3 linked regions of the Homo sapiens genome follow. The protein of the gene in region 3 binds, or shares a complex with, the protein of the main gene of each other region. Each region holds a gene or a part of one and is shown on either strand. Other genes may lie near its edges.

Region 1 (7,399 bases), on a different chromosome or scaffold from region 3:
TGCAGGGATGCCCAGGAATGGACAGAGTGGACCCTCCTGGTCATGATACCAATGTCCCTCTGCTCTTCTTAAGAGTAACCCAAGGGAGAAGCCCCAAGTGGAGATCAGACCCCCTTGGCAAAAGCCGGGAATGGGCTACATCCATTTGTGCATGGCAGAGGGTCATGGGACCGAGGTGACCTCCCATCATCACTCTGCACAACCTCAGAGGACACCCCTGTGCCCTTCCCACCATCTAGCCCCAAAGATGGTTTCAAACTGTTGCGTGTTTTTTGAAGCAGCAGAACCACCAATAGAAGACACAGATCAAATCGGAGCTGTGCTGGTCACTGGTTTGAGTTGAAAGTTGGGGCTCAAGGCTCAAGGACTTTCCTTCCACCCTTGTCCCCCGAGACCTCTGGGCATCCCCAAATCACTCCCAGAATCCTAGGCCTCTGCAAAGTCTGCTTGGAAAACCACTATTCTAGAACAATGTAAACCTCTGGCCTCATCGTGTCTGGTATTAAACCATGCCATTCCAAGGCACTGCATGGAAACACACTTTGCCAGACACCCCAGAAGGCCCCTGACTCAGGCCAACTCTGGGGGCTGGAAGACAGGCATGATCTTTTGGTGCATGTATACCTCGATCTGCATGGCCCCTTCCCCAAACCCGCTAAGTCTAGGGCTGACTTTATAGAAACTCATGCCTGTATCTATAAAGTCAAATGTCACCCAGCCAGATAAGACAAGATCTAGAACTTCTGATTCCTCTCTCAGTAGCCTTTCTGCCAACCCAGGGAGGGGAAACCATATTATATCTCTATCGCAACCCCACCCCTTAGACTCCCACTACTGCCGGGTGTTGAGCCACTCATCAACATCTTATCCCACTGGTCCCTTCTTCCTAGGTCTCGCCACCTCACTCCACCACCATTCCAAGCCTTTTCCTCTCCCCAGGGAAAAAGCAGAGGAAGGCCGTTCTGCTCTGCGTTTGCTTGAACATAACTTGGATCCTTCCACTTTTCCCCGCTGATAGTTTGGATGTGTGTTCCCACCAAATTCCGTGTTGAAATGTGATCCCCAGTGTTGGAGGTGGGGCCTAGTGGGAAGTGTTTGGGTCGTGGGGGTGGATCCCTCATGAACAGCTTTGTGCCCTCCCAGCGGTAGGTAATGACTGAGTTCTTGTTCTATTGGTTCACACTAGAACTGATTGTTAAAAAGAGTCTAGGACCTCCCCCTCTCTGTCTCACTCCTTCCCTCACCATGTGACACACCTGCTCCTCCTCAATTGAAAGCTTCCTGAGGTCCTTACAAGAAGCAGATGTTGGTGCCATGCTTCTTGTATAGCCTGCAGAGCCATGAGCCAAATAATCCTCTTTTCTTTACAAATTACCCATCCTCAGGCATATCCTTTAGTAACACAAAATGGACTAACACCCCCTCCCTCCTCCATCCCTCTGACTCAGGGCAATGTCAGTTTCTGGGCTGCATTATAATAGTTAACTTTCTCAGGTCCAACAGAACATGGCACATCTACTGCCTTCTCAAAAGACCTCTCTCAGAAATTGATGGGATAAAATGTCTTCGTCTGTTTGGGCCCCTATAATAAAGTGCCATAGACTGGGTGGCTTATCAACAATAAGCCAAATTTATTTCTCACAATTCTGGAGACTGGAAAGTCCAAGATCAAGGTGCCAGCAGATTCGGTGTCCAGCAAGGGCCTGCCTCCTCATGGACAGCCACCTTCTCACTCCAACTTCACATGGTGAAGGGGCAAGGGGTCTGTCTTGGGCTTCCTTTATAAGGGCACTAATGCCGTGCATGTGGACTCTGCCCCCCATGACATAATCACCTCCCAAAGTCCCTGCTTCTAATACCATCACCCTGAGGGTGGAGATTTCAACATATGGATTTTGGGGGACATACCATTCATACCATAGCAGACTAGGATGCAATGCCGGGTTCCCTGGGGTTAAAGCAGAAATGTGCACAGCTCTCTGTGCAGATGAAAGGCCTGAATGTGGGTGTCTGTGTAATCGTCTGCTGCCTGGATTTTGTTATATGAGCCTAAGTCCCCCTGATTGCTGAATTTAGCAGTTCAGCATTGCAGGTCCAGCTGTCACTTGAAACTGCTTTGGGTGAAGGCCTGGCCTTTCCCCTCTGGTCCCTGAATGCGAACATCTCTCCCACTGCAGAGATGGCTCGACAACCTGCTCAATGACCCATGTCCGCAGCAACCATCAATGGCTTCTCTGCCGAAATAACGGCCCCACATTATGCTTAGAAAAGCAAAGGCTGAAGGCGCATGGATGACTCATTAAAGAACAGTGCAGCACTCACTTAGGGGAGGAATAAAAAGTGACATGGTGTCTTCCCACTGCCATGCCCACCTGTGTCTTACCAAAATGCACAGTAGCTTCCAACTAAAACCACGCTGACTGATCGAGACCAGGGAGCTCATGTTCTAGTTCCCTCAATTTCCCCCTTGACCCCGTTCATCACATGTTGTACTATTACCTGTCTGGTGCCTGCCTCCTTGGCAAGATTGTGAGCCTCATGAGAGGTAGAGCTTTGTCTTCTCTGCTGTAGCCCCAGTACCTAGCATAGAGTAGAGGCCTTTATTTATCTATCTAAAATTTATTTTTGGGAGACTGACTCTTAACTTGCAGCCTCAGGAAACCAATTCCCGCATGGACCAGGAGTCCTATACCCACAGGCTGTTGCTTTAAGGCCATTGCTAAGCAGACTCTAGAGACTCTAGGGGCAGATGTGTCCTCTGTGATACCTCTTGCTCCTTGCCCAGGGCAGCCAACTCACTGCCTTCATGGAAGGCAGCTGAGAGAAAAGAAGCAATGACTCAGCTGGCTTCTAGATGGGTCCTGCACCAGAGGTCTCTCTCTCTCCCCAACCATATTCCCCCACCTCTCCTGTGAGTCATCTCTGATTCATCAACCTCCCTTCTCCTAGAAAATCTAGGGGGCTCCTTTCAGGATGCCCTAGGAGCTTCTCTGAGGGGTCTCCAGAAAAGGAGCTGCTCTACTCCTGCAGATGAAGCTCTCAGTTAAGGCCTGAAGCTATGCTGCCCACTGTGCCCATGAAAGCTGTCACGGTGACTGTGGCTTCCCTGGTGCTATGTATGACGTGGCCAGAAGCTCATCACCAGGCAGCAACTGAGACCTGGAATTTGTTGCTCCTGGAGTCTCCCTGCAACCATGAAAGCACTAGTGTTTCTCTGGAGCCTGATGCACACGCATGCGTGTTTCTCTCTCTCCCTCTCTCTCTTTCTCTCTCTCTTACACAATGCAGTCCTACTGCACACCCCAACATGAAAGGGCTCTACCCCCACAGGATCTCTACATTTGCAAGTGAGGTCCTAACTATCCGTAGGGAAAATAAGAGTTTCCAAGAGTTTTAAAGCCTTTTATTTGTTTACACATTCTCTAAATTGCAGACAAAAGATTCACTACGTGGGTAGTCAACATTGCTAACCAATCACAGAACAAGATACTAACCACAGCAAGGAAGGGGTAGGGGCTTGTGACTCAGTCTTTGAGAACGTGCGAGCATTCCATGGGATATCGAGGGGTCCCAAAGAAGAAGGCTGCTCGATCCCCACATTCTTCATCTCATCAGCGACAGGTCTCCCTCCCAGAACCCCATCAGGACAGGAGAAAAGGCAGCAAGAGAGGTGGGGTGGTCCTGGCACGTGGGCCACCAGTCTTCTGAATGAAGAGTGAGTCCCGGGTCAGGAGTCCACATCAGGTGTGGGCTGCTTCCAATCTGTAGGTTCTCCTGGAGATTGTCACAATCTGCCAGCTCTCTGGGAATCACAGAACCATCATGTCCCCTTAGGATGGCAGAAGATGTGGCACAGCCTCAATCTCCAACACTGAAACACTGAGAGAGCTTGATACGTTCCTTAGGCAGGGCAGAAACATCACAGCACTTCACGTTAGGAACCACGAAAGAGTGGGAACCTGACACACGTGGGAAGGGCACATCCCCAGAGGACAGAGGACAAGGGTGGCACACACACCTACAGAGACCGCAACCACATCACAGTGAAGGAGGAGGACAGCTAACGGGGTGGGAGGTGGGAGCTTTTTGTTTGTCTGTTGCTGTCGTTGCTTTTTAGAGAAGCCAGGGTGGGCCAAATGGAGATATTGTCTCAAGACCATTACACACAGCTTCCCAAATCTGTAGCCCTTTTCTGTAACCTCATGAAAGCTGTGTCAGACTCAGTCCTGGTCTGAAGTACCAAAGCAGCCCAAGGCAAAACCTCATCTGCAAGAGGCAATGCGGCGTTGGGTCCCAAGGATCAGTGGGGAGGGTGTTCAAAAGAGCAAAAAGGGAAACCCTCTTTCATAGGCATTTCTCTCACTGGAGACCCACTCTCTTGGTCATTCCTTTATGACTGAGAGTCTCAGAAGGAGTTGTGAGTGTGAGGTAAAAGAGACAAGCAAGCATTTTGGAATGATGGGGATAAAATGTTGCAGTGGCTTCCCTCTCTGGTGCCCATACCTGGAAGAAGCAATCCCAGGTTTGCTTCGTATCTGCAGGTCTAGAGACATCAATGGAGGCAGCAATTGGAGATCTCAGTGTGTTTCCAGGGTCTCTGACTCAACTAGAGGGCATCCAAGGCCTGGTGGAGCCTGTGCAGGCCTGAGCTTCCTCGTGGAGCAGCAGGTAGGCAGCTCATTCCCAGGGACCTGGTCATCCTTCCTACCATAGGAGCCACCTGCCAAAGCCCACCCAGAGGAATCCCAGCGTTCACAAATGGAGGCGCCCTCACCAAAGCCACTGGACCAGCCTGTCCCTGAGAAGAGACACAGAGGGGCTTCAGCAATGAGAAGAAGAAAACCAATTTCTTTTGGCTTCTTAGCAGAGATGCTCCATGTCTTGGCTGTCAGAGAAATTGAGCTTACAAATTGCCCTCACCCTGAACCCACTTGGCAACGGGGAGATGACCTGGTTGAGGTCTAGTTCTGGCTTTTGTGAATCGACCGTGTGACGTAGACAGCACAGCATCAGGCCAGGAAGGCGCCTGATGAGACCGTGTTCTCAGCCTGAGAGCGCGCTCAAGGGCAGGTGGGAGATGGAGCCTTCTCAGAGCTCAGCCACTGGCTCTTGGGCTCCCAGGTTCATCCCTCAAGGAGCTGGGGACCTGAGGGCTCAGGGCCCACCACTGGCTGCCTGGGGGAAGTGCTGCCAGTCTGGTGTGGAAAGGGTCCAAGTCAGAGGCCTTTGCCTCACCCCTTCCACCAGCAGGGCCATTCAGAGAAGTCTTGGCTCAAAAGAACGTTGCCCACAGGCTTTCAAGTAGGTGAGTGGACCAAACCCCTGCATGCTTTTCAGGCTGTCACGCACTTTAAAACCAGACTCACAGCCAAGCCTTGTGTCCCTGACTACCTCCACAGAGATCACCAGAATTCTCCTCACTGGGAGTCATGTGCCATCCAGGGCCCCAGAGGAGCCTTCCCTTGGGCCACCCCCCACAGAGAAGCTATAGCTCTGAGCCAACATCCACACATGGACAGATACACACCTTCCCCCAAGCCCAGGCATTTTGCTTGAAAGCAAGGTTGGTGTGGCTTCTTCAGGGAATAACTCAAAGCTGAAATCTGGCTGTGACACGTGTGGAGAAAAGGAAAGATGAAACAAACGGTTTATTCCTAATGCTGTCAACACAAACAACTGAGAGTCTAAGCCAGCACGAAGCTAGGATCTGACAAGCACCTGGCCAAAGGTGAGCATGGAAGGTTTGCTGAAAACCTCTCTGATGCTGGGTTTCATCCCTGCACACACCAGCAGTGCCAGATACAGGCGTGGGGCAGCTGACCTTGCTGGGGTCTGGTGGAGTGTGCCCAATCTGTACTTGAAGCCCCCACCCCCCCAGTCCCGCTCTCTGCTTTCTCTAGCAGGGAAAAGACCACTGTGGGGGTCATTTTCTGCCTCTGATCAGGCCCTGCCAGTTGCACCTCCCTGCCTTCCACCCCAGAAACCCACAAGCAGCTCTGGGGACACTGGCTGCCCAACACACTCCAGGCCAGGTGACTTCATCAGTTCACCAGTTTTAATGCTGAGGATGCTGTCATCCAAGGGCATCCAGTGCTTGGAAAAGCAGATTAAAGCAACTAGGCTGAGGTCATCTGTTTTCTTCCCCCGACCCCTCAGCCTCCACAGGGTAGAAATCACTGGATGCCTCCACCTGCTTGTCTTCTACTGAGGAACACGCATCCTCAACAGAGAAACCTACATATACTTACACCTTCCGTGATGGCGCGATACTTGACCTACAATCACGATTGCTTGGCAGAGCTTAATTTCATGGCTGAAAAGCAACTTGAAGGCTAGGCCAGCATGCGGTTTATTTTCCAGCCCCTACAGGACCTAGAGCATTGCCTCGCACACAGTCGATGCCCTGCCAAGGGTTTTAATTTAGCCAGTAACAGCCTGCCCTGCAATGATTCATGGCAGGCAAAAGATGGGTTCATTTTCCTTCAGAGGAAAAACCCCCAGGGTGGACAACCATGGCAGATGAGTGGGGGGCAGCTTGGATGGACTCTGTTCCCTTTCCTGGCCAGAGGAGCACAAATGCCCCCTAAGCATCTGACCATTCATTGCAAAAGCATGACCCATCTGCTTTCCCAAATGCCATGTGGACCAGACGCATTGGTGAGCCAGGGACGCCCTGCCTACCTACCCCGCCTCTCTCCAGCCACCTGCTCCCCACCTCCTCTGCTCTGAGATAATCATTCTATATTTTCATGCTCTTGCTCACATATCAGGCAGTGTTTCTGTCCTTTTTTTTTTTCTAGTACCTAATTTAGGCTTCTTCAACTACATGTTGAAAATGTGCACGGGGTATATTTTCTTTTTCCTATACGCCACTGTTGCTTCCCACTTCCCACCTCCACCCCACTCCTTAGCATCTATCACGGCAGAGGGAAGGGAGGAAACAGTGCAGGGAAGGGAGAGGGCAGGAGGAGAATCAGGGTCTCAGTGGGGAGTAGACATGGAAGGGCAAACCAAGTCCGTATAAACCACAAACCCCATTCTAGCCATAAAAGCTTTGCATCCCTTTGATAGCAGAATTGAGACTTTTGAAGTACCCAACTATTGCCAAATATCTTTCATGAAAAGAAGCATAGGTGAACGAAGGGAAGAGAAGGAGAGAGGTCGCGGAGCCAGTAGCTTTCCAAGCACAAGGCTCCCTTTGCAACCCTGGTGGCTGTGCAGAGGCTGAGAGCTGGAGGAGCAGGACTGGAGAAGACTTCAGGAAAGATGCACCTTGCCTGGCAGCCCCTGGCTCTCCCTCTTGTCCTGGAGCAACATCAAAGTTTCCCTTTGGTTCATTAAGTAGGGCGTGTGTGTGTGTGTGTGTGTGTGTGTGTGTGTGTGTGTATGTGCGTGCGTG
Region 2 (11,831 bases), on a different chromosome or scaffold from region 3:
GGCCTTAGTAAGATCATGTTTTCTCCAAAGACCATGTCATAGTCCTGAGATCCAAAGCAGGTTTCATCTTGTTTGGCCTACCTGACATAGATGTTAACTCATAGCATGCTCTAATAAACTTTTGTATATCTGCATATGGGAGATCCATCTTTTGAATTATTTGTGAATAACTTGTAATGCCACATGGGTTTTCTTCTGTCATCCAACACCCTTCTAAGCAGTCTTCATCACTCTCTTTTCAAACCTAGCTCCTTCGACTTCCATATGTGAGTTTTATGCCTCTGTGTTGCTGAGCTGCTGTAGATTCCCCGAACATGCCTTGCAGTGTCTCTCTGGATTTATACCTTATGAAGTGCCTTCTTCCTGGAATCTTGACTAGCCATGTCCGCCTGATGAGATCTCACAAACCAGTTCAAGTTGTGGCTCAAACCTTCCCTGATCATTTCTCATAAACCAGTTCAAGTTGTGGCTCAAAGCCTTCCCTGATCATTCTCTCCATGAGTAAGCTTTCTATCTTCTTGCTTCTTGACAGGTTTTTGTGTCATTAATATTTACTTAACCTTGACACGGCTGAGGTCTTCCTGCTACTCCTAGAGAGCCACATAAGCTTGGTTCAATATCTAATCCTCCCCCTGGCCAATTCTGCCAGTTTCCAGCCTGAGAAAATCCAAATTACTTCCCACAATTTTTGTGAATTTCTAGTCTCCTCTGCTGCTAGTTTCTACTTCTGTTTTGTATTGAATTAGCACAAACGCAAAATTCAGCCCCTTTACCAATTTTCTCTAAAAAAAGCAGAAACAAAAATTCATCCTACAGAGTATCCAAAATGTTTCTTGTATTTAGTTGACTTTTCTAAAGCTCTAGTGGTTTCAGGGTCACGTTGCAGGCTGACAGCTTCTCCTGTCTACCACTGTTTGTTTTATAATAATTTCCCCTCTTTCCCTCTATCTTTTGCCCATTCTCTTGGAGGTTCTTCCTGTTTCTCTACTTATCTCTTGTTGTTGTTGTAGTTCTGCAGAAACCTTTAGGATGACTTTGGAATCTTGCATGGTACAAAGTATCTCAAGTGGCTTATGGAAGTATTGCTTCAAACCAATGCGGTGTCTCCCTAAGAAAAATTCTTGTCAATACAGTTTTATATGTATACATATACATTGGCACTGTCAACCACTTCTTGGCATATGTGTATATGTGCCTCATTCATTGTTTTCTCTTTTATTTGAGCTTCTGAAGGGAGGCATGCATCTTACAGACCTTGGTATCTATCTGCTACAGCTCCTTGCATGGCCCCTTGCACAGAATAGTCATTTAATAAATATTTTAAATAAACTAATTGCTTGCTTTGTTCTTACATAAAAAATTAACATTTCCCTAAGCATAACATCATTAGCAAGCTAAATTGACTTTAGCAAACATATATATAATTGATCCTATCATTTAAATCCAGCATCTGTGGTATGATGGTGGAAGGGAATTGTTGGTTGGGGGATGGAGGTTTAACAATTTTGTATTTTCACCCAACCTTACTTTTGTACTTAACGTGGGGAATCTCTGGTACAGTGTTTTTGTACTTCAGAAATACGTTGAGCATGTTTCCAGTTGCCAGCTTCCAGTGTGCAGCCTTTGGGTAGTACTCACATTACAAAGTTCCCATGTGCTGTCTGGGAACTTTCTCTCTGCCAGGAAGAGAAATGTCCTCCTGTGGTCCCAGCAGAGTGTCCCTGGCTCCCTGGTCAGTCCGCCTTTTCACTGAGGGGACCTCACCCATATTACCGAAAAGGCTGTTTTTAATAATCTGTGATCTGTGTGCCAAATCTGCCTTCACATTGGCTTTTTATTCTTGGAGTGGTTGGATTAGATTTTGGTTTGGGCTTTTTTCATTTATAATAATTCTAGAATGTCACATACTGTGAAATACTAAGTGTGGATGAGCGGCAAAGCTGCTTTAAAACTCACCTGTCAAGAAGCAAGAAGAGAGAAAGCTTACTCATGGAGAGAATGATCAGGCTCATATTTTACATTCTTTTTGCATTGGTGCTTCCCCCATTTTCCTACTGTGGGAAACCCAACATACAGCAGTGAGGAGTTAAGAAGTCACACCCTCACTTGGGTTGTATTAGGATTAATTACCTGTGCAGATCTTGGATAATTGAAGCAATTACTCTTCATTTCAGCTCCAGGGCCTGGAATGGATGGTTTCCCTGTATAATAACAACTTGAACGGAATCTTAGCCGATGAAATGGGGCTTGGAAAGACCATACAGACCATTGCACTCATCACTTATCTGATGGAGCACAAAAGACTCAATGGCCCCTATCTCATCATTGTTCCCCTTTCGTAAGTAAAGTCATTTATTCCACAGTCATCGTTCTGTATGTTGTAGAGTGCCCGATTAGTAGCTTGTCCTTGTTTTTTACTTAAGACAGAATTGTAGCATGTACTAACCTAAATCCAGATTACCAAGAGCATGTAATCTGGATTTAGGTTTTAATTTCCCACCCCTCCCCATCCTAGCCTGTTTGATTGGCTATTTAAGCACGGGACCGAGTGATTTTATCGGCCATCAGCATTACAGGTCTGCACAGCCTGAACACTGCATAGTGAGTCTTGCTCATCATTATTCCTTAAGTGGCTCACAAAGGGGAAAGGTGTGTGTGTGTGTGTGTGTGTGTGTGTGTGTGTGTGTGTGTGTGATTTCTTTGATTTTTTCCTTATTCCATTTCCAAAAGATGATATATTCTTAAATCTTCCTTTTAAAAGCAGAACATAAATCAAAATCATAACTAGGAGTTTTGCATTAAAATAACCTTAGTATGTGCACTGAGGTTATGTTTCAATGAGTTTGCTGCTTAGTAAGGACAGGAGTTTGCTGTTCGCCATTACGTTCCCAGTGCCTCACCTGCTAGGTGGTTCTTAGAAGGTCCTAAGTGGGCACTACCGAGTGAGGGCACAGTGATTCACAAGCACCCTCCTGGGAGTTCAGTGTGTCTGCCTGTGGGTGTTAGGTTGCAGTTTTGTTCACCAAGGTCTTGTTATAGATCTCAATGCTGATATGAACTTGGACCTTCAGTAAGAAGAAGGATTCTATTAATATTATTGTGTTTTCTTTGAATTTTTTCTAATGAAGACTATTTGCAGCCCTTTTTGTATGAATTATCTGTATCTGTAATATTTAGGCATCTTTTGCATTTGATCTATATTTTGCGTGTTCTGAATCATATATACAGTGACACTTTCAGGGCTTTAAAAAACGTCATTCAATATTTCTTCCCCTGTTCCCTCTTGACAGATTTATTTTATGTTTTCATGTGGTTTTATAATTTCTTTTTCCTGACTCATCTTTTTTCTGAACCTATATGGCTGTTTATGAAGATTCCTAAAATCATTCTGGCAATTGCTCTTTTTTAATATCATATTACAGTTTAGTTTTTTGCTCTCTATATTTATGTATTCTTTAGTTTTTTTCTTACAAGATTTTTTTATGAACCACAAACTTGTCATGTTTTGTGACAGTTTGTTTTGAACTTATCTCCTATTTCCACACCTTTAAAATAAATATCTTGTTGAGATATGTTATATTCTGTAGCCCCTTTCAAGGTGAGGCCTGAACATGAATAAGAACATCTTTTTAACCATTGATTTTTATACAAATGTCTTTTTTCTGTTGTTTTTTTTTTTTGTTCCATAGGACTCTATCTAACTGGACATATGAATTTGACAAATGGGCTCCTTCTGTGGTGAAGATTTCTTACAAGGTTTGGAATGCTGTATTTATATATAAATGTGGAAAAGCAAAAAATAGACCCTATTTTCTTCATTCCATATGCACATCTGTGAACTGTATTTGGTTGTAAAGTTTTGTCATGTACATCATGTACTAAACCGTGAGAGTTAATCATCCCAAGAAGATTACTGTAATAAACCATAATTACTTTCAGATAGTGAAATCCAGAAGAAAATTGTTAATTATCATATTGCAAGGTTTCTGATGAGAGTAATACAAATGACAAATATCACACATTCTGCGTGCTGCTGACTGGCTCGCTGTGGGCTGCTACTGTGCTGACTGTTCCTGCAAAGTCAGGCAATTACCCGGATGCCCGGGGCTGCCTGCTGTACTTTCTCAACAGAACTGGAGCCTTTCAGCAGAGCGGTGGGTTCTCTACTACCACAAATTCACTGTCATTTCCATTTCCCTTTGCCCTCCCACTGTCTTTGGTGGGAAAACCTTTCTAAAAAAAGATCTGAAAAGGGTCAAGACGTGTAATTTAGCCAAAACTTCCTCGTGTATAATAGATCAGTCTATGAGAATGTGTGTCTGTGCATTCTTCAGTCACATGTCTGGGCATCATTAAGCTATGAAAAGTGAGAAATAATGCACATATATGTCCATAGGATCATGCATGTATTTTTTTCTTTCCATTCAGGGTACTCCTGCCATGCGTCGCTCCCTTGTCCCCCAGCTACGGAGTGGCAAATTCAATGTCCTCTTGACTACTTATGAGTATATTATAAAAGACAAGCACATTCTTGCAAAGGTATGTTTTTAAAAAATTATTTTCTCTCTAATTAGGACCATTGCACTGGAATGTGAAGTATTGCCCAAGTCAGTAGTGTAATTGGATCCTTAGATGGCTTGTCCTTTTCTTTATTTTTCTAAAATTTTTTCAGAGTTTGATATGTTTTGGTCGTGGATTTGATTTCATGCATGCTGTGTGTGTGTGTGTGTGTGTGTGTGTGTGTGTGTGTGTGTGTGTGTTTATGATTGATCCTGGGGCGGCTCTTGTCTATCCCCTCAGAGTTGATGAGTTTACATCTCTTAAAAAAATTCACCTGGTTGCTTCTGCAACTCTTTTTCTCTCTAACAGCTTTGCACATTCTCGGGAAAGAAATAATTGTTTTTGTTGCCCTGAGATATTGTCAGTGTACCTTCATTCTTCTTGTGCCTTTGTTTCTCCAAAGATGAGCCAGACACCTCTCCATATGGTCTCCACCATATGAACATTTATCCAAGCCGTGGCTTTTGTGGTAGTCTTGTTTCAGGTTTTTCCTGGTGAAATAATAGACTATCATTGTTGGAGTTACTTAAGGTTGTTTCTGTGACTATTTATTTGAAACTGAGAAAGAGGTGTTTCTGTGACTTACATGTCTCCTAATTTTTATGTCCTAAGTTGTTCCTTAGCCACAAAGTAGAAATTTTTACTCCCATTTATATCATCTTGTCTTCTAATACGTTCATGTAGAAAGATGGAAGTGCTCTCTTTCGTGGAACAAATAATGAAAACTCTTTTTTTTCCTCTTTAGTAATTTTTTTTACCCCATGACGTTTTGAAAGCACTATAATCTGAAACTAAGTTATGTCCAAAATTGAATAGAACCTCTATTTCTGGGGTCTATTCTACCTCTGCATTAAACTCTTGCTCTGGGAACTGAGAGTTCCCTTCATGGCATCATAGGAAATAACAAAAAGGAAATGTGTTCCCAGGGGAGGTTTAATAATTGAGATGGCACTGGCAACAATGCTGTGTTCCACCTCCTCACACTCAGAGATGAATTTGGCAGTGTCAAAAATGATGTGTTTTCAATATTACTATGGGAATGTGTTTGTACATTTGAGATCCTTTTAAAAAAATTCATCTTGTGTCTTCTGCATATGTATTTCAAGATTCATTGGAGACGCCTGGTAATGAGATGCACTGCTTTTATTTGTTACTGGAGAAATGGAGCTATAGAAAGAGGTAGTAATTTTGTCCAAGTGGAAGACCTAATTAGTAGTAGACCCCATAGCAAAATCAAAGGCCTCTGATTCTTTATTATTTCATAAGCTAAATTAGGCAGGAAAGTAGATTTAGGATATTTATTTAAATATATTTTTTGTCTGCTTGCCTCTTTTCATGCTGTTGGTAAGTCTGAGGCAGTTGATTGTACAGCTTTAATTATCCTTAAACACTTTTCTTAGAGGTGGTGGAGGAAGGAAAAAAAATCGAGGTAGTTTTTTTTTTGTTTTTTTCTTACCTGTACATCCCAGCCTGACTGATGATTTTATTCCTTTTCTCCTGGCACGTCTGATGCTTCTAATGAGGAAGGCAAGGACTGTATAGAATACTTTCCTCATCTCCCTTCTCTCTCTAGGAGCTTTGCAGCAGGATCTGGGGACATCTGAGCACCAGATGTTTTTCTTGGCCATTGCCACTGTTTTGTAGAGAATGGATAGGCTTAGTGGAACATTCCTCATTGTTCTCACTTTAAGAAACTGAACAGTGCTCTTAAGAGGACTGAAGGGTAAGGTATGAGAGAGGGAACGTACTGTGTAGACAGGAAGGAGGACTGGGCCATATAAGCATTCTGGACGTTTTACGCAATCGTCATGTTGGGGAAGTATGCTGTATTTAATTCTGCAGTTTTGGCATAAATACAGGAGTGATATTTTTGCAGTGCGCTTTCTGCCAGTGAGTATATTCTTTTATTTTAGATAAAACAGGGGTCCTAGATCTGGCAGGTAAGGAATGTGCGTGTATTGAGGGAGCTTCGTTGTCAGACCTAATTTTTGAAAAGCCGTATGTACAAATTTAATGTGAAATAGTCCAACTTTTAAATGTTAGCAACCAGTCCAAACAAAACAAAACACACTTCCGGGCCAAGCCCTAAAGGTAGTAACCAGCCAGGCTAATAGAAAAGAAGGCATGGAGCCAAGAATATCTCAGCTGTAGAACCTGCTAGGGCCATCTTGGAAAAATCAGTCATTAACCTCTGCTTCAGGTGGGTACCTATATTCTGTGCCTGTCATGAGCTGAAATAGCATGACCATGAAATCTGGGATAGCTGTCATGATAACGTATTAATAGAAGGGGCATTGGATGGGGAGAGGCAGGATCCACACGTGGAAACAACCATGTCATTCTGGACCCAAATTTCCTTCTTTGTAAAAAGTTGATTTGGAATTACGTGGTCTGTAAGGAACATTGTTCCTTTAACATTCTATTATTATAGGATGTCTTATGCGGCCTATCAGGCATGAGACATTGTTGAGATTCCCTTGTCTCAAAGGTAATCACAGCATATCATATACCAAGGATGGGTTCTTTGGTTTTCCGCACCACCACTTGCTTGTTGGAAATAGTTGTATTTTCCCTTGCTTACTACACGTCCGTCCTTCCTCTTGTGTTATAGATTCGGTGGAAATACATGATAGTGGACGAAGGCCACCGAATGAAGAATCACCACTGCAAGCTGACTCAGGTCTTGAACACTCACTATGTGGCCCCCAGAAGGATCCTCTTGACTGGGACCCCGCTGCAGAATAAGCTCCCTGAACTCTGGGCCCTCCTCAACTTCCTCCTCCCAACAATTTTTAAGAGCTGCAGCACATTTGAACAATGGTTCAATGCTCCATTTGCCATGACTGGTGAAAGGGTACTGGTCTGAGTTCTGTTTTTTCCACTGCATGATAATGACATGAAATGAAAGGCCCTAAAGCTGAGAACATTAGAGCCACAGAACACCCGCAGGGTGGTTTCCACTGTTGTTTATTTTATGAAACCCATCGGTGGGTGGACATGGTCTTGTGGTGGGGTTATTTTCCCCTCCTAGGAAAATGGATCTAGTGGTACATGGGGCATCTAACCCCTTTGTCTTTTGCCAGCATGTTTACCAGGCTACCAGAAAAGGGTCCCAACCGGTGGAATGCTTAACTGCAGTGGGCCACAGGGAGGATGAACATGGAGATATTTTGCTGAAGTAATTTAACCAGACCAAATTAACCAACTAAATACAAGCTTTAAACAAATCTTTCCTTGTTACAAACTTGGAGTTCCCTTTAAAATATTTCCACATAAAGATTTTGTGTGTAAAACAGAACTAGTTTTCACACATTTTCTGCAGACCTTTTTTTTTTCTTTTTAGGTTTTAATGTGATTTTCAGTTTTGTGTGTACATAAATAGTCTTCCTGGAGTAGCCATTTATTTTCCAATTTCTTATTGTTCCTTCCACTGTCTTCTCTTAAGAGCTCATTTATGAAAGGTAGACAATGGGCCATTGCAAGAAAAGAAATGGGCACGTGTCATTTTCATAGTGGTTCCTCATTCATAGGAATGAAAAGCCACTAAAAATGCTTTAGTAAAATTTCGGTTTGAATTATTTGGCCCTTTGATGTTGAGGCACATGGGCCCATCCTCAGTAGTTAACTCACTGGCTTGCCCATTTGTAGAAAGTAGTGTCAATCAACTCTGCCCCCTAGAGGTTAATAGGAGAAGGTGAAAGAGAAAGCCGGGAAATGTATAAGATGGACTAAACTTGAACTAGATAGGGCTGAGAAAAGGAAAGGAGTGAAGTTAGAGGGACTTAGAGGTCCACCAGCATAAACTGGATCAACTCTTGTTCCTCTTCTTTATATGTTCAAGCCCCTGTTCCTTTAGTATGTTTCTGTGTCTGAGACAACCAAGACGAAGGGCCTAACTTAAGGCTGCCACTTTAAATAGGGAACATATTAACTGTTGCCCACCTTCTCCCATTCTATCTCAGTCTTCAGTCTGTCTTCATTGACAGTCATATCCCATACAATTTGAGGCTGTTGACACTACTGATAAAAAACTGGTGGCTTCCGGGCTCTTTTCCATAGAACTCAGCGTTAAGACAAAGACACCTATTTAGAGGTCATTTTGTTACCACTTGGTAGGCAGGTGGGAAGATAATTCAGAGGTAGATATGACAGGCTTAAACTTGGCTTTAATGCATGTAAAATGTCAATCATGTATTGAACCACACATATGTAACATAAAGCTTTATTGTATGAAACATCCTTTTCTTTAAAAAATCAAATTCATAATAAGCCTCTCTTACAGGTGGACTTAAATGAAGAAGAAACTATATTGATCATCAGGCGTCTACATAAGGTGTTAAGACCATTTTTACTAAGGAGACTGAAGAAAGAAGTTGAATCCCAGCTTCCCGAAAAAGTATGTTGCACAACCAAAAGTTGTGGGTTTTTTTTTTCCTCCAGCAAATATATTTGAAGTACCTGCCTCTGAAATTGTGTTTCTGAAACAGCAGACTCATATTGTAGTTAATAGTATCTTGAAAATATCTTAAATTGTTTTTTTGTTTGATAGGGCTAGAGAGAGCAGGGAAATTATAGCATTTGCAGCCTGTTTTCCAAAAGCGTTCGAGCAGATTTTATGAAATTATCAAATTCACTGAGTCTCATTTACATTTTAATTTTAGATTTTTTTTTTTTTTTAAATTACGGACCTCATTGAGTTCACTGTTGCAGGCACTGTAGAATTGTTCTGCTTATAAGTGAATGGAAGATTTGGCGTTGGGGACTTGTATCATCATTGAAGGGGGTGGTAAACATTTACAGGTTTTCTAGAAATTTATTTAACATTTGATGTTTGTGATGTCACCATTCTGACAGTAAGTGAAAAAACAGAGTTCCTGCAAATTACAGACACATCATCTAATTATTCGGGGACATTATTTTTGTTCTGTGCCATAAAAATTAAGTTCCTGTGAACATTTTAAGCCAGTATTTTTCGGACTAACTTTTGGAAACTTAGTCTGCAGTACTTTAGAACACCTTTTGAGCCCTTAGCTCCATGTTTTGGGGTTGGATGTGAGTATTAGTTTAATATGTTTCTGATCATATTTTGGAACCATGCATATTTGAATTCTAAGTTTCATTCTCTTAGAGACAGTTTAGCATTGTGTACTATTTGTTGCATGAGGTATTTTGATTTGAGTTTTTTCTTTAGAAGAGCCAATTCTGAAATGTCTTATTTTTGCATGATTGTGGTTTTTCTGGGTAACGACTCTATTTTTGGACAGATTGGTTCATCCTGTTCATTTTTAAGTGGGAGTTTTCAAGATGGTGTACAACGTTGATCACTTTGTTACGAGAGAATTTTATTCCCTAATCCTTTATGCATTGTCAGAAAAAAAATTAAAAATGACTTTTATACCATGCATATCTCAGTGAAAGTCTACGTATTTAAGTATTTTATTCTGCTGGTGAATGCATCTTGGACGTAGAATGCTATTGATATTCCCTTGGACTTCCTGTGGTCTTGGCCTCTGGGTAGCACCCTTTCTGTTCAAGATGGAGTTTAGTTACTGAGTAGATAAATTGATGAATGGGTATAGTGGCCATGTGGGTGCCTTGAATTACTTCCTAGCATACAGTTACGGTGATTCTGCAAGTGATAGAGATGGAATGTTAAACATTTTAATTTATCCCATAATTTCTTTTTTTTTCTTTACAAGAGGTATAAAATAAAAGGCAATTAACTGAAGCCCTTCATTTATTCATTCCATAAGACTTCTTAATCTTGTTCATTCACTTCTAAGACTGGCTAATACAGATAGATTTTTAAAAATATATTGCAAGTTGAAAGTATGTTATGTTGTAAGAAAATCCACTAGAGAAAAATTGAAATTTTTGCAGCTTAAGAATTATGAGGTGATTAATTATATCACAAAGGAATTCTTTGCTTTACAAAAATATTTATTTTATGGTTCTTTCTACAAGAGAAGTTCCTGAGTATACTTGAAGGATGATAAAATTTTTATGAAATGTATCTACCCTCAAATGATCACGAGTATGTCTCTTGCATAAAGTATACATGTATTTATTAACACCCAGAGTATTATATTTGAGGTATGTAAAATACTCAGTGTGTGGTATTATCTACCTTTAGAGGTATCTGTACCTTTAAAGGCAGCCATGTTATCTTTTCCTTTGGTGGAGTGGAAATCATGGGCTCTGCCTGTCAGAGTAGGCATGGGTTTCACCACATTCTCCATCTCTTACTATGTGAACTTGGGCAAGTCTTCTAACCTAAATGGGTCTTAGTGTTCTCATCAGTGAACTGGAAGATAAATGACTCTGTCTTATGGAGTTGTGAGGATTAAATGGATGTAGGGCTCCTAATACCATGCCAGGCACATGGTGGGCACCCAACCAATGACAGCTGCTTCTACCATATTCCTTATTTTCCACTCATGTTGCTGTCTCTGTTATTAATGGGAGTTCCATTTTCCTATTCTTGAAGCTCTTTCTCGCTGTTCTCTTGTCTTTGCTCTCCTTCCGGTAGCCCCCCCACATCTCTCTCCATAAACTTTTCAAGCACTTTGTGTGTGTATGTGGTTGTTGTTGATATGGCTGGGCTGATGTTCATTTTCTACTTTTTCAGCCTTGTTAGGATTTTTTTTTTTTAGCCTGGGGAAAGTTGGAAATTTCATTGCCATCCTAGGGGGTAAAGAAGTTTCTTCTACCACCACTGCTTACAGCCACAAACAATGTGCATGTCTTACTTAGCCTGGATAAAGAATCCAGAAAGGAACTACGGCAGATGGAGGAAAAGGCTAAATACTTTCACAGCAGTAATTCTCAAATGTTTTTATGAAAAAAGAGCCATATAGGAAAGAGGCTTTTACTTTTATTTTTTAATTTATGTGTAGCAAAATTTGCTTCTTTTGGTGTATAGTTTTATGAGTTTTGACAAATGAAGAGTTGTGTTAACCATGCCCACAACAAAAATTCAAAACAATGTCATCATCCACCGCTCCAAAAAAAATTCCCTGGTATTTCCTGGTACTACTTCTTTTCAGTGAAACCCTCCCTCGGCTCGTAGCCTCATGCAGCCACTCATCCGTTCTCCATCCCTGTCTATAGCTTTATCTTTTCCAAAATGTCGTATGAGTAGAATAAGACAATGTATAACCTTTTGCATGGTTTTTTTTAATTTGGCAAAATGTGTTTCAGATTCATCCATGTTGTTGCATGTATCAATAGTTGGTTCATTTTTATTGTTGAATAATATTCCATTACATGGA
Region 3 (11,831 bases):
CTGCGTAACATCCGTCCCTGTGAGCCCTGCACTGAATGACTTAGAGAAGTTCTCAGAGATGCCACAAAGACTGACTTTTTTAAAAAAGTTTTTATTTACTTTTTTTTTTTTAAACTTTAAGTTGAGGGGTACATGTGCAGGATGTGCAGGTTTGTTACATAGGTAAACGCATGTCATGGGGGTTTGTTATACAGAGAAGATTGACACTTATTGTAGGTATTTTAAAAGAAAAATGTATTCACTCATACTTACAAACCAAATTTGCGTAAAACCCTGGAAACACATGTTAAAAAGGTATATTGGAGTAAAGGAAGAAAGCCGTCTTTTGCAGATATAAAAGGGTAATAATCCTGCAGACATGGTTGCCCGCCTAGTGCTGCAGAAGAGAAATGACTTGCTTTCGAAATTCAGGCAGGCTCCGCTCCAGCCGACAGCCTCCTTGGAAACATCACTTGCAAGGCTTGATTTCAGAAAGACCCTTATTTACAAGTATTCACATTTATAGCTAATAAAAAAAAAAAGGAAAAATCTCCCTTGCCAGTGTTTTTTTTTTCCTTTCCTTTCATGGAAAAAAAAAAAATGAATGCAACCTCTTGTAACTCCATTAATAGAGGAGGCTGGCAGGCTCTCTAGGACATCCCTACCTTTTGCCAGAAGCTACAAATGTATACTCTAAAGTAAACAATGGAAAGGTTACTGAAGGTTAAGTACATTCACACACTTCAGACAGCATGGCCAGGCTCCTAGCTGGGAAGATAATTTACCCGGCACGAACCTGGTGCCCTAGTTCTGGCGGGGTTGAGCGAAGTAGGGTGGGGAGAAGGAATAGCTGATATGTCCCAGGTCTACAGTGACTAGAGGTCAACCAGAGGGCACCTCTGTTTATAACCTGAGTCCCTTTCTCATTTATCTTCCACTGAGGATTCCCTAGTTGGATCCATGACAGGTTTTGTGACATCACCTGTCAGCTAATAATAGAAATTCAGTCAGCCACCTGCCAGCCAAGATGGATGGGTTTTTGGTTACAGACTTATTAACCGAATGTGGAGCTCCATGCCCCACCCCTGCCCCACTTCTCCCAGCCTGGTCCCTTCCATTCCCCTCCCCATCTCCAGCTTACAGGCTGGGGAGGTGCTTCCTACAGCGCTCATTGGAACTCCCCCACAACCTTTTCTAGATGCTTTATAACAAGATCGCCACTGGCACCTTAAAGACACAAACCACACCCCATGGCCTTGCCTTGGTTCACCTGGGAGTCTCAATCACTGACTTGCTCTGGTGGCTGGAAGACAGGAACCCAGACATCCGGTGTGAGAAGCCACACAGCCACTTGGCAGTGATATGTGGGGTGCAGCCCCAGGGGCCAAGGGGCTTATGCCTCCCAGAGGCTGACAGAATTGAAGCCTAGAGCTGTATTAGCACCCCAAATTGAAACCTGACTAGAGACAGATGACTTAGAGTGCTCTTAGAATACAGTCAAAAGACTTAGGATTTTAGCTGGTTCAGAGCAACCATTGGGTGAAAAAAAATCTAAAATGTTTCTTCAGAATCTTTTAGTTTAGTTCGCCTGAATGTGCTGGTAAAAAATAAACTATAATTATGTTCTTCCAGGAAAAAGTGACTTCAAAGAACATACATTTTTACCGTAAATTTGTGTTTAAAAATCTTGTAATAAATGAGACTCTAACATGGCCAATAGTTGGGAATAATTTTATTTTCCTTTAACAACAAAAATGTTTCCAGACACTTTCCCTAATGATGGGACTGGAATCGGAGAGGCCACCTGCTGTGTGGGTGGCAGTGAATCGAGAGGCTTCTGAAGACCAGGGTGCCTCTGCCTGCGACCCCCAGACGCCTGTGTGTGCCTGGAGCCCCCTGCACGCGCTCTCGGGGCTGGACGAGACCAGGAGGCTTTCCTTCCACTGCCTCCTGTGTCACAGGCCCTCGGCTCCATCTGGACTACTGAGAAGAATGTATACCAGGAGTCCATTTGCAATCCAAGCTCTTTTGTGTAGTTAAAATGATAATGTTGCCATAAAAATGACAGTTTAAAAAAGGGGAAAAGGGAACGGCTGGCTGTTAAGAGAACAGGCCCTCCACTTTCTGAAGGATCTATACGCCTCAGCAGGGCCCCCGTCCTGAAGCTGATGCACACTGGGAGAGCTATTCTCCATACACAAGTGCAGCCCATTCAGTGACACGAGTTCTTTCCTGGCAAATAAAATGTACCCTTAGATCTTTACAGACATCACCACTTTGGTCCCTACGCCCCACTGGGTTTTTATTTTGGAAAAATAGTTTCAGAGCTGTTCACAGGCAGCTTGTTTTACTCTGTGAACTGGATGTAATGTTGTGAGATTTTTAAAATTAGATTTCCCAGTTTTTAAGGGACACCTGAGTTGGTAAAGCCTTTGAATCTTTAAGGATGAGGTTAGCGAGGATTTCTACTTGTTTTTAGAGCCTACAGATGTAATTCTAGGTATATTCACTACAAGTGCACTTTGGGCCTAAAACGTATTTATGTGAGATCCCTTGATTAGCAACCTTGGATATCAGCTTTGCCATCCAGACAGCAGCTAGAGGAAATCATTAAAAATGAAATGACCTCTTTCTCTGGCTTCTATGTGTAAACATTTCACATATTACAAAGGTATTTTCAATACAGCCAGAGGTGTCTGGTGGGTATCGTGTATACTGTAGCACCAGATGCCCCAGATAAGACCTTCTACTCCCCAGCTAGTTGGCTTTGGGCAAGTACTTAGATTCCACGAGACCTTCATTTTCTCATGGATTTTAAAATAGTATCAATGTCACAGGGCTGATGTGAAAATGAAATGATAGCACTTAGAAAAGGGCCCAGCACACTGGAAGTGCTCAGGAAACATGGGCTGCCAGCCACGCTCAGAACAAGCTGTGTACAGGAGCGGTGGGTGCAGCCACATCTCATAGACAGGGACCAGGAACAGTGAGGCTAATGTGCTGAAGGTCGCTGACTGCGAGGCAGACACAGATAAGAGAATGGTCGGATCTACTGGAGTAAGGTCACCACCCAGCACTAAGGTGCCAATTTCTTCCCCTCTCTACTATTGCATTTATCAGAATATATGATTTTGTCATTTCAAATCTGAAAGCCAAACGGTAGAACGAAGGCTGGCAGGGGAGCTGAAAGGAATGGGAGGGTCTCTGTCAGTGGGGAGGAGAGGGAAGGGAGCCAGCAGGCGTCACTGATGTGGCTCGGCCTGCGAGCGTGTTGGTGGCCAGCGCTGCACCCATTCCTAAGACCCCTGACTTCCAGAACAAGGCTGCAAAAGACCACCTGTTTCCAAAACAAGGCCGTGTGGATCCTTACCACGACAGCTTGTTAAATTCCCTAGAAGTGAGAACTTGCTGGGTAGGGGACATTAGAAACGAAGCCCAGGCTTCATTTTACTAAAGTTCAAATCTGAGGATTTCCGAAAGAGGGCGGGGGAGCTCGAGCTGTCGAACCTGTAGGGTGGCATTTCCTAGAAGTGCACATGTATTCAAACTGGCCACTGGGGGATCTTTATTTTGTGTAGAGGTAGATGGAATCTTTTTGAATACTTGTATAAGCAATAAACGTATATGGCTTAGAATTCGAAAGCCTGTTTTGATTAAGGTAAAGCAAAAGAAGGGGTGCCTTCCAAGTGTCAACCAGAAATGGCCATATCCCAGATTTAATTCTCTCATCCCTTAACACTGCCAGTGGGCGTCCAATTAAATAAACAAAACGACACAGGAACCCCCCACCTCTCAAAAGTCCCAAGTTCCCTGTTGGCCTGACTGTGAAACCACCTTCCCGGAACCTCCCAGGCCAGGCGCCTGGGCTTTCCTGGGCCAGTGACTGCAGCGCCGCCACTTACCAGGAGATGGCGGCTGGAGCTTGGGCTGCTTTTTGGTGTCCCCGGTGCTGAAGACTTCCGGCGGGGGCTCCTCCCCACGTTCGATCTTGCACTCAAAGGCAAACAGGTACTGAATATACTGCTTTTTCAGGGAGCTCGCTGCACTGCTTGAGGTGCCAACGTTTAGGTTGGTTGCCAGCTCACGCCACTTCTTGTTTTTATTAACCTAGTGAAAAACACGGCAGGATCATTGGTTTGCAACAAAGTGGCTTGTTTAAAGCCAGGAGACAAAAAAAGCACTTAATGTCTTGGTTGACTTTTCTTCATTTGCCTCTTTTAACTAATGCTCATTACTCCCACTCAGCAGTGCATAGGCAGCATTTACAGTTATAAAACCATTAGGGAACCTGCTGATGGCAACAGAAAAAGCACTGCTCGGAGGTCCTTCTGCCCGCCACATCTCCCAACGCCTCACGCTCATCCCACTGCACCTCCAATTAAGGAAAAAGGGCATCTCAAAACATTTAAAAAGCAACAACGGCACTATTTTCCAAGTTAGGTTTTTGGGCACTGATGTGAAAGTGCTCATTCCAGCAGCTGCAAGCCCTCAGAAGTGGGCCTGTGATTCTGGGCCGTACCCATCCCCTCACCCCAAGACTGCTTGGGGTGTCAGGCAAAAGCAAAAGCAGCACCTCGTGCAAAGGCAAATGAGCCCCTGGACCAACGGCCCCCAACTTAAAAAGCATGATGCGATGCCACTGGCCACCAGCCCTGCTGACGGGGCAGGTGCACACCTTCCTGTGCGGTGCTCTTACTCAAGGAGGCTTAAAGGGCTGGAGACAACACAGTCGCAAAAGGAGGAGAAAGAAAGAGAACTCCTGAAATGTGACGTCAAGATCCGAGGCATTATTTTAACCTTTTGATTCCCACTTGGGAACAGGTTATGAAAGGTTAAACGGTTAAACACATGGATGAAACATGAGGATTTGCAAATAACTTGGGGAAGGTTTTGCCTTTTGATGTCTCCTGCGTTGTGTGGCAAGGGAGGAGGTAAGGGGACAGTGGTTTTTAATGAAATATTAAATTTCTGGGTTCAAACTTTCTCACACGGCTCTTCTGTCCATTTACTTAGTACTCGGTGGTGTATAATAAATTGTGGATGCTCCCGGAGATGCCCACCGCCCTCTTTTGGCACTGAATGCAGGGCTGCAAACTGTGGGTCTTCAGGTTACTTCAGAAATGGCAAGCTGGGCGCTGCTCAGTGTGACCTAAGAAGGAAGGCTGGGAGCTGAGCTTTGTGTGGTGGCAGCACCTGCTCCCAACCACATCTGATGCCCACAAGGTACACAGCATGATGGGGTGGGGACAAAGATGCAACCCAGCTACATTCCAGCAACCCTCATTATAAGCCCGCGGAGAGTCTCATGACAGACCCAGCCTGGTTATATATACTGTGGACACAGTCACAGTAAGGAAGTAGCCAGACACTATCTACTCTGTGCTGGCTGATAAAATCTAATCGTTTGAGCAGTCTTGGTGATTCTAAAAAATCCATGTCAGAAGAGGCTAGGTGCAGGGGAGAAAGGTCAGGGGAGTCCAGGGGCAGAAGGCAAAGGAGCCCAGGTGCAGAGGGGAAAGGTCAGGGAGTCCAGGTCAGAGAGAGGCGTGTCTCAATCATTCTCTTTGCTGACCATCACTCACACGTGGTATCACACGACTTAGCAGCTGGTTATGCAGCGTCATGGGCAAGCTCTAATTCTTTCTGTCACAGGTCTCAGTTCCCCCATGGAATGGATTAGGCACCTAGTGGGAAGGCTAAGCACAAAGAAGGCCTCCCCTTTCTCCCCCGAGACGCAGCACTGAGACCACGGTAGGCCGTCAGTGACACCTGCAGGGCAGATGACTTGCCCTTGGATAGTTAGTGACCCCCGCCACCTTGGTGGGGCGCAGGGCGCCTGATTCTGACTGCCTGTTAGATTACCTTGGGCACAGAAGGTTTCATTTCATTGATGTCGGGTGGTAGCCCAGGTACTGACAGCTTTGAAAAGCTGCCCAGGCCATTCTAATGCATAGCTGGACTCCAGAACCAGTGGCAAATGGGAAGAGTATGTGTCTGGAGTCAGACAGACCTGGCCCCACCAACTACCCTGTGAGTGTCCCTGGGCTACAGCATTATTCTATTTTTTAAAAAATATATTATTTTTTATTGAGACAGGGTCTTGCTCTGTCAACCAGGCTGGAGTATAGTAGTGTGATCAAAGCTTACTGTAACCTTGAACTCCTGGGCTCAAGTGATCCTCCCACCTCAGCCTCCTGAACAGCTGGGACTGTAGGTGTGCATCACCACGCCCGGCTAAGTTTTGTAGTTTTTAATGGAGACAAAGTCTTACTGGGGTCCCCAGGCTAGTCTGCAACTCCTGGCCTCAAGTGATCCTCCTGCCTTGGCTTCCCAAAGTGCTGGGATTACAGGTGTAAGCCACTGCACCCCATCCTGTACTTGATTTTGTTACACAGGAGTTTTCTCATCTATGCTTTGGGGCTGGTGACTCATGTATTTAGAAAGACAAAGGTTACACAGTGAGTACCTTTTCCCTGTTCCTATGACAGGGCGTGGTCCTACAACTAGACTCCTGATTAAGGAGCGAGGGCTACAGTGAGGAAAGCCGGTGCCTGGGGTATGAGACTTCAGGACGCACTCACTCTGAGAGTCAAGCAAGCACACAGTGGATAGCTCCTTAAATCTGCACCCCAGGCAGCTCCCCTGTCACACCTCAGGCCTAGCCCGCTGGAGGTCACAGCAATGGCCCTCCTAACTGTCCAGTTATTGTGGGCATGGTTTGACAAGTATCACTTAATTTTCCTGCTAACCTGTTCTGGATAGAGGGAAGCAGTAAATGTGACTTATATCTGACACAGATAATTAATTCAGTCATTTGTAAAACATTTCTGAGTATTTACTATGAACTACTGGCAGATTCCAGAGAATTCTGGAGCTGTAAGAAAACCTACAGGAAAATCTAGTCTGGCCCGCTGTATACATGACGAAACTGAGGTCCAAGAACATGACCTGCTGAGGTCACGCTGCGAGTTGGTGGCAGAGCCAGGGTCCCCCAGTGCTCCCTGACAGCACACAGACGTGGGTTGCAAGAAGGCGACTTTCACACAGGCTTAGCTTTTCCTTTGTGAGAAAAAAAATGAGTCCACACATTCAAAGAAAGCCACTGTAAGAACTTATCCACAATGCTTCCTTTTTCACCCCCTCCCTCACTCATTCTTACCTGGGCCAAACCCCCGATCTCTTTGACGCAGACGTAGAGTCGGAACAGGTCCAGGGGCTTCTTGCCCACGGCAGGCAGACTTGAGACAGGAGAGCCTCTCTCTTCCATGAAGGTGAGGTATCGGTCGACCCAGAGCTTTCTCTCTGGCTCATTCCCCAGCTCGTACACCTTCGTGATCTTCTCCCCAGTAGTGGTGGAGGAGCTGGACTTCTAGTACCCAGAAGCAGCATGTGGAGGTGGGGCATGGGTGGGCAGAGGGAGAGGGAAGAAGGTGAGAAAAAAGTAATGAGCTAACAAATACAAGAAGAGAAGAGATTAAAAACTACTGCTATCACACAACAATTAGGAATGAAGGCTACTAGTTCAGGCACAAACTATACATTTTCTTAGTTAGGAATTTACTTTTACTTTAAATAAAAGGCCCAAACTCCCCCTTTTATACACTTAAAAACAAAAACAAAAAAGAACAAAGCCCTTTTTGGATATAAGCGTTGAATCCCAGAAGGCAAAATTCCAGTGACACCTCATGTTATTTTTAAAAATAAAAGGGTTCTAGCTCATGGAATGATCATAGTGAATTAAAATTTTTACATGTGATATTATAGAGCCCAAAACATTAAATGGACTCCTACTTTTCCTTGTCAAAACAAGAATGGCTAAAGGGTGTCTTCGTTAAAATGCTACAGCATCTGGAGGATGAGCAACCACACGGTGCTTGCTGAAAAATATAAGGTAGATTTCCAGTCACGGGAACCAGTGGTGTGGGCTATAAGCTCGTGTGTTTTTTGTTTTTTTTTGTTTTTTTTTTTTAGATAAACTAAGGGTCAACCAAAGCTTTGGGATTTATGGATAAACATATACATTTATTTTTATGCCCATGTATTTATATGCTCATGTGTTTTATATTGATACTCTAGTTCTTGGGTTTCTATGTACCTGCTTTTACCTGACACTAAAATATCAAGAGTTGCCGTTTCTGAACACCTGAAGCCTACTCCGTGGATTACATAATCTGGACAGGTAACACTTTTAGCCCTAGGCGGGCCAACTGTATCTCTTCCCTTTCTTATTTATATCTCTGTATTTGTAAAAATATTTACAATATTTGCAATACTAGGGTTATTGTACAAAATCTTTTCTCAGTTCTCAATAAAGATTTCTTGGAACAATAATTTACTTTATTTATGCATACCTAGGTTATTATTTGCAATATAGAGAAATTATTACAGACAGAATTCTTAAGTTTTTTTTCCTTTTTTCTTTATTTAGCTTAACATAATTTTAAACATATTTTTGAAGGTTTAGGGGGTTAACTAACATGACTGCCATTGAGGCTAGATGTTACCTTATTTAGCAGAATGATCTCCAGTAAAAGTAGGTCCCTCAGAAAGGATGCCTGAGAATGAAACTTACGCAGCATGTGAGGCCGCCGCTTTCCCTTTAACTAACACGTGATTCTCCAGAGTCACTGGGCTGAGATTTTAAGCCTTCAGCTTCAGAATTACTGAGGCATAACCTCTTTATCAAATATGTAATGGGTGATACAGTTGATGTAAATAAAAAATGTAGAATGATAAAAAATAGTTGTTTTATATTTTAGAATATACTTTGATGCTGAGGTTAAACTTCACATCACTTAAAAACCACTTTAGATAAGAGCTTAAAAAATATATATGTATACATATTCATATATGTGTGAATATATATATGTCTATAAACCCATATGTACACTTAGAATATAGAAACTATATATCCAAATAAATTTTTAAAGCTTATTTTTCATATCCTTGTACCCAAGGCCTACTTGACTAGGAAAAGAGGCTGCTCTAACACACTTTACACAAGACTCTCATCCGGGCAGCACCTCAGAAGCTCTGCCGTCATTAATGGGACAGTTATTAAAAACAGGTTCCTAAATTTTAGTATGGAGTTTTCTTTTTTATTAACGGGACAGTTATTATTAGGAGGTTTCTAAATTTTAGTATAGAGTTTTTTTCTTCTTTGGGGAGTTACACTTAAAAAAATGGGTCCAACGTTTTCAAAAGTGAAAAATTGAAATAAGAACATGAAGAAAAAGGCATTATAATCTATAATCAGTTAACAGTAAAACAACTTCCCTCTTGCATTTTATTTGTAAAAAACTGAGGTAAAAGTTTGAGATTCAGTTTAAAGATAAGACAAATAAAGGCAATCATTTCAATTTAAAATTGCTCCAATTAGCTCAACCAATATCCTGTTTGTAAGATCCATCTGCCGTTCCTGGTTTGGTCCTCTCTAAACTGAAACTGGGGAGTGGTTCTGGATGAATAGAATCATGAACAGAGCAACGGGGCACAGAAATGCTTGTTCTTGCTTCTGAAGGGACTGGATTCTTACAAGCTGGAATAGGCCTGAGATAATGATGGACACAGTTTGACTATATATTAACTTTTCTCTCCTTGGTTAAATAAACTTAAGTTTAATTAACTTGTGCCTATCTCAATTTGTTGTCATAACACTGGAAAAATTAAATGAAGATACTTTCTAAGAGAATAGTTCTTTTTCATAATTTTTAGATCTTCTAAGAGGCATTTTTATGGCACCATAATGTAGGAAACTGCATCTGCAGGGAACTGACACGGTCAGGCCTCAGTTTACGTGATAAATTCGGAAGAGGCCTCCCGAGGCTGGCTCACTTAGCTGAACCAGGGCCTCAGTTTCACCACTGCCACACGCTTTACTTTTCCTTTGCAGCACGACGTCACACACTGTGTAAAACTGTATGTTTTGCACGTAACTATTTGTCTGACACCCACTTTTCCGACTAGATCCTAAGTTTCACAAGTCAGAGTTTGGGTGGATGCTGATCACCAACACTTAGCGTGGTGCTCTGCATGCTGGAGGGCTGTGATAGCATTTTTTTTTTCCATGAGTGATTACTCCAATGGACAAAAAGGGTGTGAAACGCTTGGAACATGCTAACAGGAATTAACAGCTGATTCAAATATCCTATAAACAGGATTTCACCGAGCAAGGTGTGGAGTGAACGTGGGCACAGTCTAGTAAGACTGAAGGCTGAGCAAGAGGTTGCGTCCGCTGCCAGCACTCAACGCCTCCACCCCAGCTTATGGTTCGCATACTGGGCAGGCAATGACCACAGCCAATATTTAGTGTCTGAACAGAGCGCAATTAAAGACTTAGTGAATAGAGAGCATGTACGTTATCACTCTCATCACTGACCAGGCTCCAAACATACTGTCCTTGTTCATAGACGCTGGCTTTGGATAAAGGTCTTCATTTACACTCCTCCCACTGACAGTAGGCAAACAAACTCGCCCTTCGGAAAGACGGGTTCACTTTTCCCAGTCACTAAGGCCTACCTAGTACCGCCTCAGTGTTGCAAAAATTGTATCCTACTGCTGTGAAACTTTGTGGAGGCAAGAAAAAGGAATGGAAATTGCTGTAAAATTACAGCAAGACATTATTATGGTGCCACAAATGTTTTCCTTGCATATACTTTAATTAAGCCTATAAGTACATTTTCCTCAAGTCTTTTAGGCAGATTTACATTTCAGCAGTCTTTACCATATGCCTGGTAATATGTGTATGTGTATGTGTATGGACAAATGTTTATTTTTATTTTAGAATGTTCTGTAACAAAACAATGTTGGTCCACAGTACACTGTCAAAGCATAGAGCATCTTCATCATTTTGCCTTTTCCAGACCTGCTGTTAGACAGGCTTTATTAAGGACACTATTAAGAGCAATTTTAAGCCCAAATTGAAGCGGCATCTCAGAAAGAGCAGTTAACTATTCCGGGGTTGCATGTATTTGCAGTGATTTGATAGCAGAGATAATGTTAGGTTCTTCATTATACTCTCTTTTGCTCCCCTTTTTGAATTAGCATCTCATTCAAAAAAGTGGCTGTTTTCTCAACACAGAGCAATAATCTGACATTTTCCACTACTGTGAACTTCAGCTTCTCTTGTTCCTATCTACTACAGGAGCCAGAAGTTTGCTTGCAAATTCTTAAAACTATTTATGGTACAGGAAGAGATCATATATATGGAAATATTGAGAAAAAATACACAATTTCAAGTTTAATTATAATCAGAAAACAAAGTTTATAATTCAGTTTGCTATTGTCTTACATTAAAGGAGAAAGTCAGATTTTGATAAAGTCTCCTACAGTGGATGGAGATAATCTTAACTAGTGAATTAAAATATTGTGACTATCTCAAGCCTTCTTTATAAGTCAATGAAATTAGCAAGATGAAAAGTTTTAAACAATATAATATGGTCTATTGTTAGTCTTTCTTTTTAATAAGTGCTCATTCTTATTATCTTTTTTTTGAAATGGAGTCTCACTCTGTCGCCCAGGCTGGAGTGCAGTGGCGCGATCTCGGCTCACTGCAACCTCCGCCTCTCGGGTTCAAGTGATTTTCCTGCCTCAGCCTCCCGAGTAGCTGGGATTACAGGCACCCATCACCATGCCTGGCTCATTTTTGTATTTTTAGTAGAGACAAGGTTTCACCATGTTGGCCAGGCTGGTCTTGAACTCCTGAGCTCAGGTGATCCACTCGCCTCGTCCTCCCAAAGTGCTGGGATTATAGGCGTGAGCCACCGCACCCGGCCCTTAATTATTATCTTAAGTTTTAAAGATTATTATTTTTAACCTCTGAAATTCTCCCTCTGGGCCAACACACAAATACT

Evidence for each region.
Region 1: ARID1B (region 3) and DPF3 share a complex: the UniProt entries of both Homo sapiens proteins name them as parts of the neuron-specific chromatin remodeling complex.
Region 2: ARID1B (region 3) and SMARCA2 share a complex: the UniProt entries of both Homo sapiens proteins name them as parts of the neuron-specific chromatin remodeling complex.

What each region holds. Positions count from the first base shown.
Region 1 is NC_000014.9:72,605,646-72,613,044, forward strand, and holds the end of DPF3 (zinc finger protein DPF3), read right to left. Parts: 3' UTR 3,389-7,399; downstream 1-3,388. UniProt on the Homo sapiens protein: Belongs to the neuron-specific chromatin remodeling complex (nBAF complex).
Region 2 is NC_000009.12:2,079,658-2,091,488, forward strand, and holds part of SMARCA2 (SWI/SNF-related matrix-associated actin-dependent regulator of chromatin subfamily A member 2), read left to right. Parts: intron 1-2,174; coding exon 2,175-2,338; intron 2,339-3,689; coding exon 3,690-3,756; intron 3,757-4,428; coding exon 4,429-4,539; intron 4,540-7,171; coding exon 7,172-7,414; intron 7,415-8,842; coding exon 8,843-8,956; intron 8,957-11,831. UniProt on the Homo sapiens protein: ATPase involved in transcriptional activation and repression of select genes by chromatin remodeling (alteration of DNA-nucleosome topology).
Region 3 is NC_000006.12:157,176,486-157,188,316, reverse strand, and holds part of ARID1B (AT-rich interactive domain-containing protein 1B), read right to left. Parts: intron 7,349-11,831; coding exon 7,139-7,348; intron 4,087-7,138; coding exon 3,882-4,086; intron 1-3,881. UniProt on the Homo sapiens protein: Involved in transcriptional activation and repression of select genes by chromatin remodeling (alteration of DNA-nucleosome topology).